2 separate regions of the Homo sapiens genome follow, and region 2 is linked to region 1. The links come from fine-mapping of genetic effects on gene expression. Tissue or cell type: sun-exposed skin. Region 1 holds a variant in brackets; the other region holds the start of a gene. All regions are shown on one strand. Distances are from middle to middle.

Region 1 (4,125 bases):
GCTCCTGAGAGGGCTGGATCACAGGGTCGGGACACTGGCCGCTGAGAAGGAGCATGGGCTGCTGGGTGGAGATGAGTGCGTGCCGTCACTGCAGAAGGTGGCCCACACCTGCCTCCCATCCGTTTGTGTCCTGTCTGTCCCCATGTCCGCAGCTGCAGCCGAAGCCATATGGTGTCACCAGTGCACGGGCTTCGGAGGGTGCTCCCATGGATCCAGATGCCTGAGGGACTCCACCCACTGTGTCACCACTGCCACCCGTAAGTGGGAACAGTGGTGGGCTGGCCACGTCCTTCTTGCCCAGGTGGGAAGATGTGGGCTCAGAGGGTGACAGAGCCAGATCCAGGCACCCAGTAAGTCAGAAGCATAGTGGGGAGTGTCCGCCAGTGATGCCCAGGGAAGGGTATGAGCAAAGGGCCACGTCTGCCCCAGGAGGGCCCGTATGCTTCATGTACCTGGGGCGTCTGACCCTCAGCTCAGTGGCAGATGGGGCAGCAGGGTCTGGGCAAACCAGAGCCTCAGGGAGCTCCATGGTTTCTCTCCTGCCCACTCAGGGGTCCTCAGCAACACCGAGGATTTGCCTCTGGTCACCAAGATGTGCCACATAGGCTGCCCCGATATCCCCAGCCTGGGCCTGGGCCCCTACGTATCCATCGCTTGCTGCCAGACCAGCCTCTGCAACCATGACTGACGGCTGCCCTCCTCCAGGCCCCCGGACGCTCAGCCCCCACAGCCCCCACAGCCTGGCGCCAGGGCTCACAGCTGCCCCTCCCTCGAGACTGGCCAGCCCACCTCTCCCGGCCTCTGCAGCCACCGTCCAGCACCGCTTGTCCTAGGGAAGTCCTGCGTGGAGTCTTGCCTCAATCTGCTGCCGTCCAAGCCTGGGGCCCATCGTGCCTGCCGCCCCTTCAGGTCCCGACCTCCCCACAATAAAATGTGATTGGATCGTGTGGTACAAGCTATGCAGTGAGAGTGGAGTCCTGCCATCCTGGGCTTGGGAGTAGAGTGGAGTAGATTTGGGGGTGCCTCGCTCCCTCACCCCAGGCTAAACCCTACTACCCCACCCCCACTTGCCCTTATCACGGAACAGGCCCTCCCGCCTCCAGCCAACTGTCAGGCCTGAAGGGCACGGGGGCCCAGGCACCCCGGGCAGCTGCTTCTCCTGAAGCAGCTAGAGTGGGAGTTGGGGCTGGGGCACATGAGGAGCCCTCCACCCCAGAGCGTGAGTTGGGAAACCTCAGAAAAAGGACACCCCGGCTGAGACATGGAGGCTGTGCGGGGTGGAGGAAGGGAGGAGGTGCCATTGGCAAAGACGGCTGCAGCAGGCCTTCTGGAATAGGGAGAAGAGTGAGGCGGCATCCTCACCCTCGCCCTCATACATGCCCCTGGGCCAGTGGCCCGGCCTGCCCCTCTCTAGGAAACCCCCAGTTCTGGCAGGGAACACCACCTCCAGCTCCTCTGGGCCACTGGGTACCCAGCACACAAGGCAGGGTGCTGGGGAGAGATGCTGGGAGTGGGATGAATCAGACTGAGGTGATGGGCAGCTGTGGCCACCCATCTCAGGGTGGACATGGAAACTAGGTAAGTGATGTTTGTGGAAGTTGATCACTCCCTAGGCAACATTGCGTCATGGCCGAGCTTCGGGCTGCAAGGTTGAATGAGACCCCCACATAAGCCTGGCACTCCCCTCGGAGAGGCCGAGGTGAGTCAATACCTGCAGCACCCAGATCCCCCCGACTGAGTTAGCACCTGCCAAGAAACACACCGCCAGGCCCTTTCCTTGGCCTTTCTTGTTCTCACCTTGGCAACGTTCTCATGAAGAATCAGCACAGGAGAAAGCTGATGCAATTGTTAAGCTGCTCCACAAGGAGGGGGTGTCTCAGGCAGGGCCGCC[G/A]GACACTCAGGTGCAGGACAACTTTCAGAGTAGCCCCGGGCACAGAAGAAGACATAAACAGGGTGCGCTGGAGATACCCAGATAAGCTCAAGAATTGAGGTGACAATGGAGCACTTCTCAGATCTGCAGGAGAGGGACAGGGCTCACTGGCAGCCGCCGTGGAGCACTGTGGAGAGAACAGGATAAGGCTGGATCATCACCTCTCTCGCTACAGCCAAAGGCATGCCAACTGAATGAGAGGTTTCGATGTAAAAAGAGGAGGTTTTTTAATGCTAGATAATTCAGAATAGAAAAGCAAGACACGTTCCTGAAAGGATTGGACAGAGTTGCTGTAAACACAGCAATTCCACCCCCGCCCCCCCACCTGGTCCAAATTCCACCCCCAGGCCAAATTCCACGCCCAGGCATGGCCCAAGAAGAGTAAACACGAGTCCACACAAAAGCCTGTGCACAAACATTCACAGTGGCATTATTCATAGCAGACAAAAGGCGGGAAAAACCCAAATGCCCATCAACTGATGGAGGGATCACAGAGATGACAGACCCACACCACAGAATGTTATTCAGCCACATAAAGGAATGAAGCCCCGACCCACGCCAAAACACGGGAGAGCCTTGAAAACACGCGGGGGGTGCTTGAAAACACGATGCTAAGTGAGACAGAAGCCGCGCACAACAGGCCAAGCAGTGTACAGTTCTATTTCTCAGAAGTGGCCGGAATAGGGAGCTCTATAGGGAGGAAAAGGAGATGAGTGGTTGCTAGGTGGTGGCAGGGATTATTAAGAAATACGGAAAGGCCGGGTGTGGCGGCTCACGCCTGTATTCCCAGCACACTGGGAGGCCGAGGAGGGTGGATCACCTGAGGTCAGGAGTTTGAGACCAGCCTGAGCAACATGGTGAGACTCCGTTTCTACTAAAAATACAAAAATTAGCCAGGTGTGGTGGCGCATGCCCGTAATCCCAGCCACTTGGGAGGCTGAGGCACGAGAATCACTTGAACCAGGGAGGCGGAGGTTGCAGTGAGCTAAGATGGTGCCACTGCACTCCAGCCTGGGCAAAGGAGCGAGACTCCATCTTAAAAAGCAAACAAACAAACAAACAAAAAGAAATAGGGAAAAGCCAGAGTACTTTTCCTGCTCTCACACAATACAGTACTTCACCCCATCACCAAAGTGTGTGTATTTCTCTCCACCAGCAACCAAGCCACACTGCCGTGGACACCAACTGGATGTCCTCAATTCAATTCCGACACCATTCCTGTGGCGGTCACGTCAGATCCCGCAGGTGGAGGGCTCAGTGCCACGCAGTGAGCCCCACTTCCAATGCCAGTCGCAAGCCCCAGGTGTGGCCCGTGCTTCTGACCAACCTGCCATGAATCAGGGTTCCCACAACCCCCTCCTCGGGTTTGATGACTTGCTGGAGCGGCTCATAGAACTCAGGGACACACTGAGCCGCGTTTACCCATTTATGACACAGGCTGTGACGAAGGTGTGGACGCACAGCAGGTGGGGGAGACGCGTGGGGCAGGCACAGGGAGGGGCTCAGAGCTTCCAGGCCCTCCCAGTGCCACCCCCAGACACCTGCGCATGTTCTGCTCTCGGAGGCTCCCTGAGCCCTGTCCTTTTGGGAAATTTACAGAGGCTTCATTACGTAGGCATGATGGATTAAACTACTGGCCACTGACCAACCCAACCTGCAGCCCCTCCCCTCCCCTGAAGGCTGGGGGTGGGGCTGAAGTCCCAGCTCTCTAATCCCGTTGTCCCTCATCCTGAAGCTCCCTGGGGACCCCCAGTCACCAGTCCTCTCATTAGCATACAAAAGATGCCCTTGCCACTCCAGAGATTCCAAGGGTTTTAAGAGCTGTATGTCAGGAAACCAAAATATCCATCTCACAATCTCACAAAATAAGCAATGTCAGAAAACCAAAATATCCATCTCACAATCTCACAAAATAACCACTTCACGTTCTCACAGTGAATGGAGCAAAGATAGCGCTGAAGCGTTCAAGGTTTCTTTTCAAGATGATGAAAATGGGCTAAAACTGCGAATATGGTAAAAACCACTGAGTTACCCACTGTAAACGGGTGGATTGTATGGTGCGTGAGAAACCACTGAATTACCCACTGTAAATGGGTGGATTGTATGCTGTGTGAGAAACCACTGAATTAGCCACTGTAAACGGGTGGATTGTATGGTGCGTGAGAAACCACTGAATTAGCCACTGTAAACGGGTG
Region 2 (4,125 bases), 21 kb after region 1:
CCACTCATCCCCCACCCGTCCACCCATACATCCTCCACCCATTCCCCATCCATCCCCCATCCATCCCATATTCATCCTCCACTTATCCATCTACCCATCCATCCACCCATCCATCCATCCACCCATCCATCCATCTATCCATCTACCCATCCAGCCACCTATCCATCCCACACTCATCCTCCACTCATCCCCCACCCATCCACCCATACATCCTCCACCCATTTCCCATCCATCCCCCATCTATCCACCCATCCATCCATCTATCCATCCCATATTCATCCCCCACTCATCCATCCACCCATCCATCCACCCATCCTCCACTCATCCCCCACCCATCCACCCATATATCCTTCACCCATTTCCCATTCATCCCCCATCCATCCATCCAATCCATCCCCCATCCATTCCATATTCATCCCCCACTCATCCATCTACCCATCCATCCATCTATCCATCCATCCATCTATCCATCCATCCCCCACCCATCCTCTATTCATCCCCTACCCATCCACCCATACATCCTCCACCCATTTCCTATCCATCCCCCATCCATCCACCCATCCATCCATCTATCCATCTACCCATCCAGCCATCTATCCATCCCCCACTCATCCTCCACTCATCCCCCACCCATCCACCCATACATCCTCCACCCATTCCCCATCCATCCCTCATCCATTCCATATTCATCCCCCACTCATCCATCCACCCATCCATCCACCCATCCATCCATCTATCCATCCATCCCCCACCCATCCTTCATTCATCCCTGACCCATCCACCCATACATCCTCCACCCATTTCCCATCCATCTCCCACCATCCACCCATCCATCCCATATTCATCCCCCACTCATCAGCTACCCATCCATCCACCCATCCATCCATCCACCCAACCATCCCCAACCCATCCTCCATTCATCCCCCACCCATCCACCCATCCATCCTCCACCCATTTCCCATCCATCCCCCATCCATCCAACCATCCATCCCCCATCCATCCCATATTCATCCCCCACTCATCCATCTACCCATCCATCCACCCATCCATCCATCCATCCACCTATCCATCCATCTATGCATCCATCCCCCACCCATCCTCCATTCATCCCCAACTTATCCACCCATACATCCTTCACCCATTTCCTATCCATCTCTTACCATCCATCCATCCATCCCATATTCATCCCCCACTAATCCATCTACCCATCCATCCACCCATCCACTCATGCATCCACCCATCCATCTCCCATTCATTTACCCATCCATCCCCCACCCATCTATCCATCCATCCCCTATCCATCGCCTATTCATCCCCCATTCATCCATCCCCCATCCATCCATCCATCAACTCATCCATCTATACAACCACCCATTGGGACATCACAGGACAGAGAAACCAGAGAGGCTGGTATACCTGGAAGGACTGTGGAGAGGGGCACCTTAGTGGGTCTCACAGCATGGGGAAGATGTGGGACATCAGATGGGAGACCAGGCAATGTGGTCATTGAGCGGTATGGCATAGGCAGGCATGCGTGTGGAACAGGGTGTCGTGGGGGGCACGCAGTAAAGAGCAGACAACACAGTCAGGCCAGGAGGCTGGAGGGTGAGCAGAACCTTATTGTCAGGCGCCTAAAATCAAGAAACTCAGGTTTGGTCTAAAGGCCATTAGTGGGAAGGGGCTGGCAGTGATGAGGGGCCACTCCTGGGCCCAACCTTGTCAGCCTGAGAGTGGTCTAGCTGGCCCATGCTACCCTCACCTGACACCTGCTTCCTACCTCTGGTTTCTACTTTGCAGGTGTGTATCAGGTGTACACAGACCAGGTAGAGGTCTGTGGAGAGGGCTGCAGGCCAGGCTGCAGGGAAGGGGTGCCAGGCGGGGCTAGAGCAACAAGGGCAGAGGCTACACTGAACCTGGGTCTTAAGGGTCCCCCAGGCTGGGGCTGGGTGGCCTATGTGAACCCCAGAGGCACAGCCAGGACATGGGGGCTCATCAGAGGGGCAGTCTGAGCTCAGCAGGAAAGGCCTTCTCTGTCAGAGCTGTCCCAGGACCACTGGACATGGCTGAGGAACAGTGAGTTCCCCAGTGTTGGAGGTGTGCAAGCAGAGGCCTGGCCATCGTCCTCAGACAGAGCTCCCAGATCCAGCTCCCTGCCCGTCTGCCATGTTCCTGCCAGCTGCCTCCCCACTGGGCCCTTTACCACGTTCCTGACTCACACGGCCGGTTCTGCCACCGCCCAGAAGCCGGTGCCCAAGGGCCTGGGTATAAATCCTTGATGTGAGGCTGGCTACCTCTCATCACTTCTGAGCACGGAGCAATGGCCTCTCGCTGGGCTGTGCAGCTGCTGCTCGTGGCAGCCTGGAGCATGGGCTGTGGTGAGTGGGCCGCAGGCTGGTGGGGACCCTGCCTCTGAGCTTGTCTGCCCACCTCCTAGGGGGATGGGGCTGTTGGGGGTGCTTTGTGGCTGAGAGCCTCCTTAGGCCTCCATGAGGCTCACCCTCCTCATTCTCAGTGAGCCTCCTGGGTCCCAGAGCCCAGCTTCACCCTGGGACAGGGGTCACGGCTCCACTCTGCAGGAAGGGAGACTGAGGCTTGGTGGAGGGATGCAGCATTCAAGTCTGTGGCTCAGCTCAGTTAGAGAAAGCTGCCAGAGAGGCCCCTTGAAGGGCTGCCCGGGGCCTTGAAAGATGTCAGCGAGACTCCTTCAGCCCCTGCCTCCTGGTTCCAGGATGAGGCCACCGAGGTCAGGTGATGAGGTTCTGCCCCCATCCCTCACCCAGGTGAGGCCCTCAAGTGCTACACCTGCAAGGAGCCCATGACCAGTGCTTCCTGCAGGACCATTACCCGCTGCAAGCCAGAGGACACAGCCTGCATGACCACGCTGGTGACGGTGGAGGCAGGTGAGGCCAGGCCCCACGGCAGCCCTGGGTGCACTGGAGTCAGGGCCACCTCCCCCAAGTGCCTCCCTCCTTTGCTGGTGCTCCTCCCGGCCCAAAAGGCAGCAGGTGGGATGGGCAGAACAGGCTGCCACACCTTGGCAGGGGTGCCTTCCACGAGGGTGGCACAGCCCCCTCAGAGACCCAGTCCTGGGGCACCAGGCGCTGGAGGTGGGTGGGGCTTAATGGCCGGGGTACCCTGGGGGGCTCAAACCCCAGCTCTGACACAGACCCACTGGGTGGTGTTGCCACAGCCTCTGGGCTCGGGCTCCCATCTCAGCGCAGGCACTTCAGAGGTCTGACAAGGCCTAATAATTCATGAACAGGTCACAGTCAGAGGAGGGCTGGGCCCTGGGTGGCTTCACAGATGTGGACTATTGGGAACAGGGATCACAGGGAGGGTGAGGTCAGGCGACGGCGGCTGGGAGCAGTGCAGCAGCAGGCAGGCGCTGCAGGGGAGTGAGGGTTCTGACACTGGCCCACCCTGCAGAGTACCCCTTCAACCAGAGCCCCGTGGTGACCCGCTCCTGCTCCAGCTCCTGTGTGGCCACCGACCCCGACAGCATCGGGGCCGCCCACCTGATCTTCTGCTGCTTCCGAGACCTCTGCAACTCGGAACTCTGAACCCAGGGCGGCAGGGCGGAAGGTGCTCCTCAGGCACCTCCTCTCTGACGGGGCCTGGCTCCACCTGTGATCACCTCCCCCTGCTTCCTGCTGCTGTGGCACAGCTCACTCATGGGGTCTGAGGGGAGAGAAGCACACCAGGGGCGCCCTCTGCCTTCCATACCCCACGCTTATAAAACATAACTAAGCCAAGAGTGGACATGACTTTTGTCCTTCCTGGGCACTGACACCCTACAGAACTGGCCTTCAGGAGAGCCAGGCTGAAGGACAGCACATTCTAGGCACCTGCTCCTCCCTCTCACCCAGAGCCTCTGTGACCCATTTCACAGATAGGAAAACAGAGACTTAGGGGAAGAAATGCCTCCTGGGCCCCTTTCCTGATGCAAACTAGCCTGGCATCTCAGACCAGGACCTGTACCCTAGCCCAGGGAACATCTCCCGCTAAGAATCTCCCCTGTAAACCCTGGAGACATCGCTCCCACCCTAGAGAGGGAAGGAAGCTCAGAGTTGGCATCCACTTTCCTCCAAGGGTGGATACATCTGGCTCTGCCTGCCCAGCCCAAGG

What was found. PIP is the estimated chance that this variant, and not a neighbour inherited with it, causes the effect. A credible set is the group of variants that fine-mapping cannot tell apart.
Region 2: it holds the start of SLURP1, and the variant in region 1 is the best candidate, but not a certain one, in a credible set for the expression of SLURP1 in sun-exposed skin (GTEx, PIP 0.71).

What each region holds. Positions count from the first base shown.
Region 1 is chr8:142,761,168-142,765,292 of GRCh38, reverse strand. LYNX1-SLURP2 (LYNX1-SLURP2 readthrough) reads left to right here. Exons shown (of 5, transcript NM_023946.5): 4 at 153-257; 5 at 552-955. The coding sequence ends at 688. SLURP2 (secreted LY6/PLAUR domain containing 2) reads left to right here. Exons shown (of 3, transcript NM_177458.3): 2 at 153-257; 3 at 552-955. The coding sequence ends at 688. SLURP2-AS1 (SLURP2 antisense RNA 1) reads right to left here and starts at 2,228. Exons shown (of 2, transcript XR_007061134.1): 1 at 1,798-2,228. The variant G/A (reference allele first, on the strand shown) is at 1,892.
Region 2 is chr8:142,740,578-142,744,702 of GRCh38, reverse strand. It overlaps SLURP1 (secreted LY6/PLAUR domain containing 1), which reads left to right and starts at 2,297. Exons shown (of 3, transcript NM_020427.3): 1 at 2,297-2,375; 2 at 2,781-2,900; 3 at 3,427-3,754. The coding sequence starts at 2,318. The coding sequence ends at 3,560.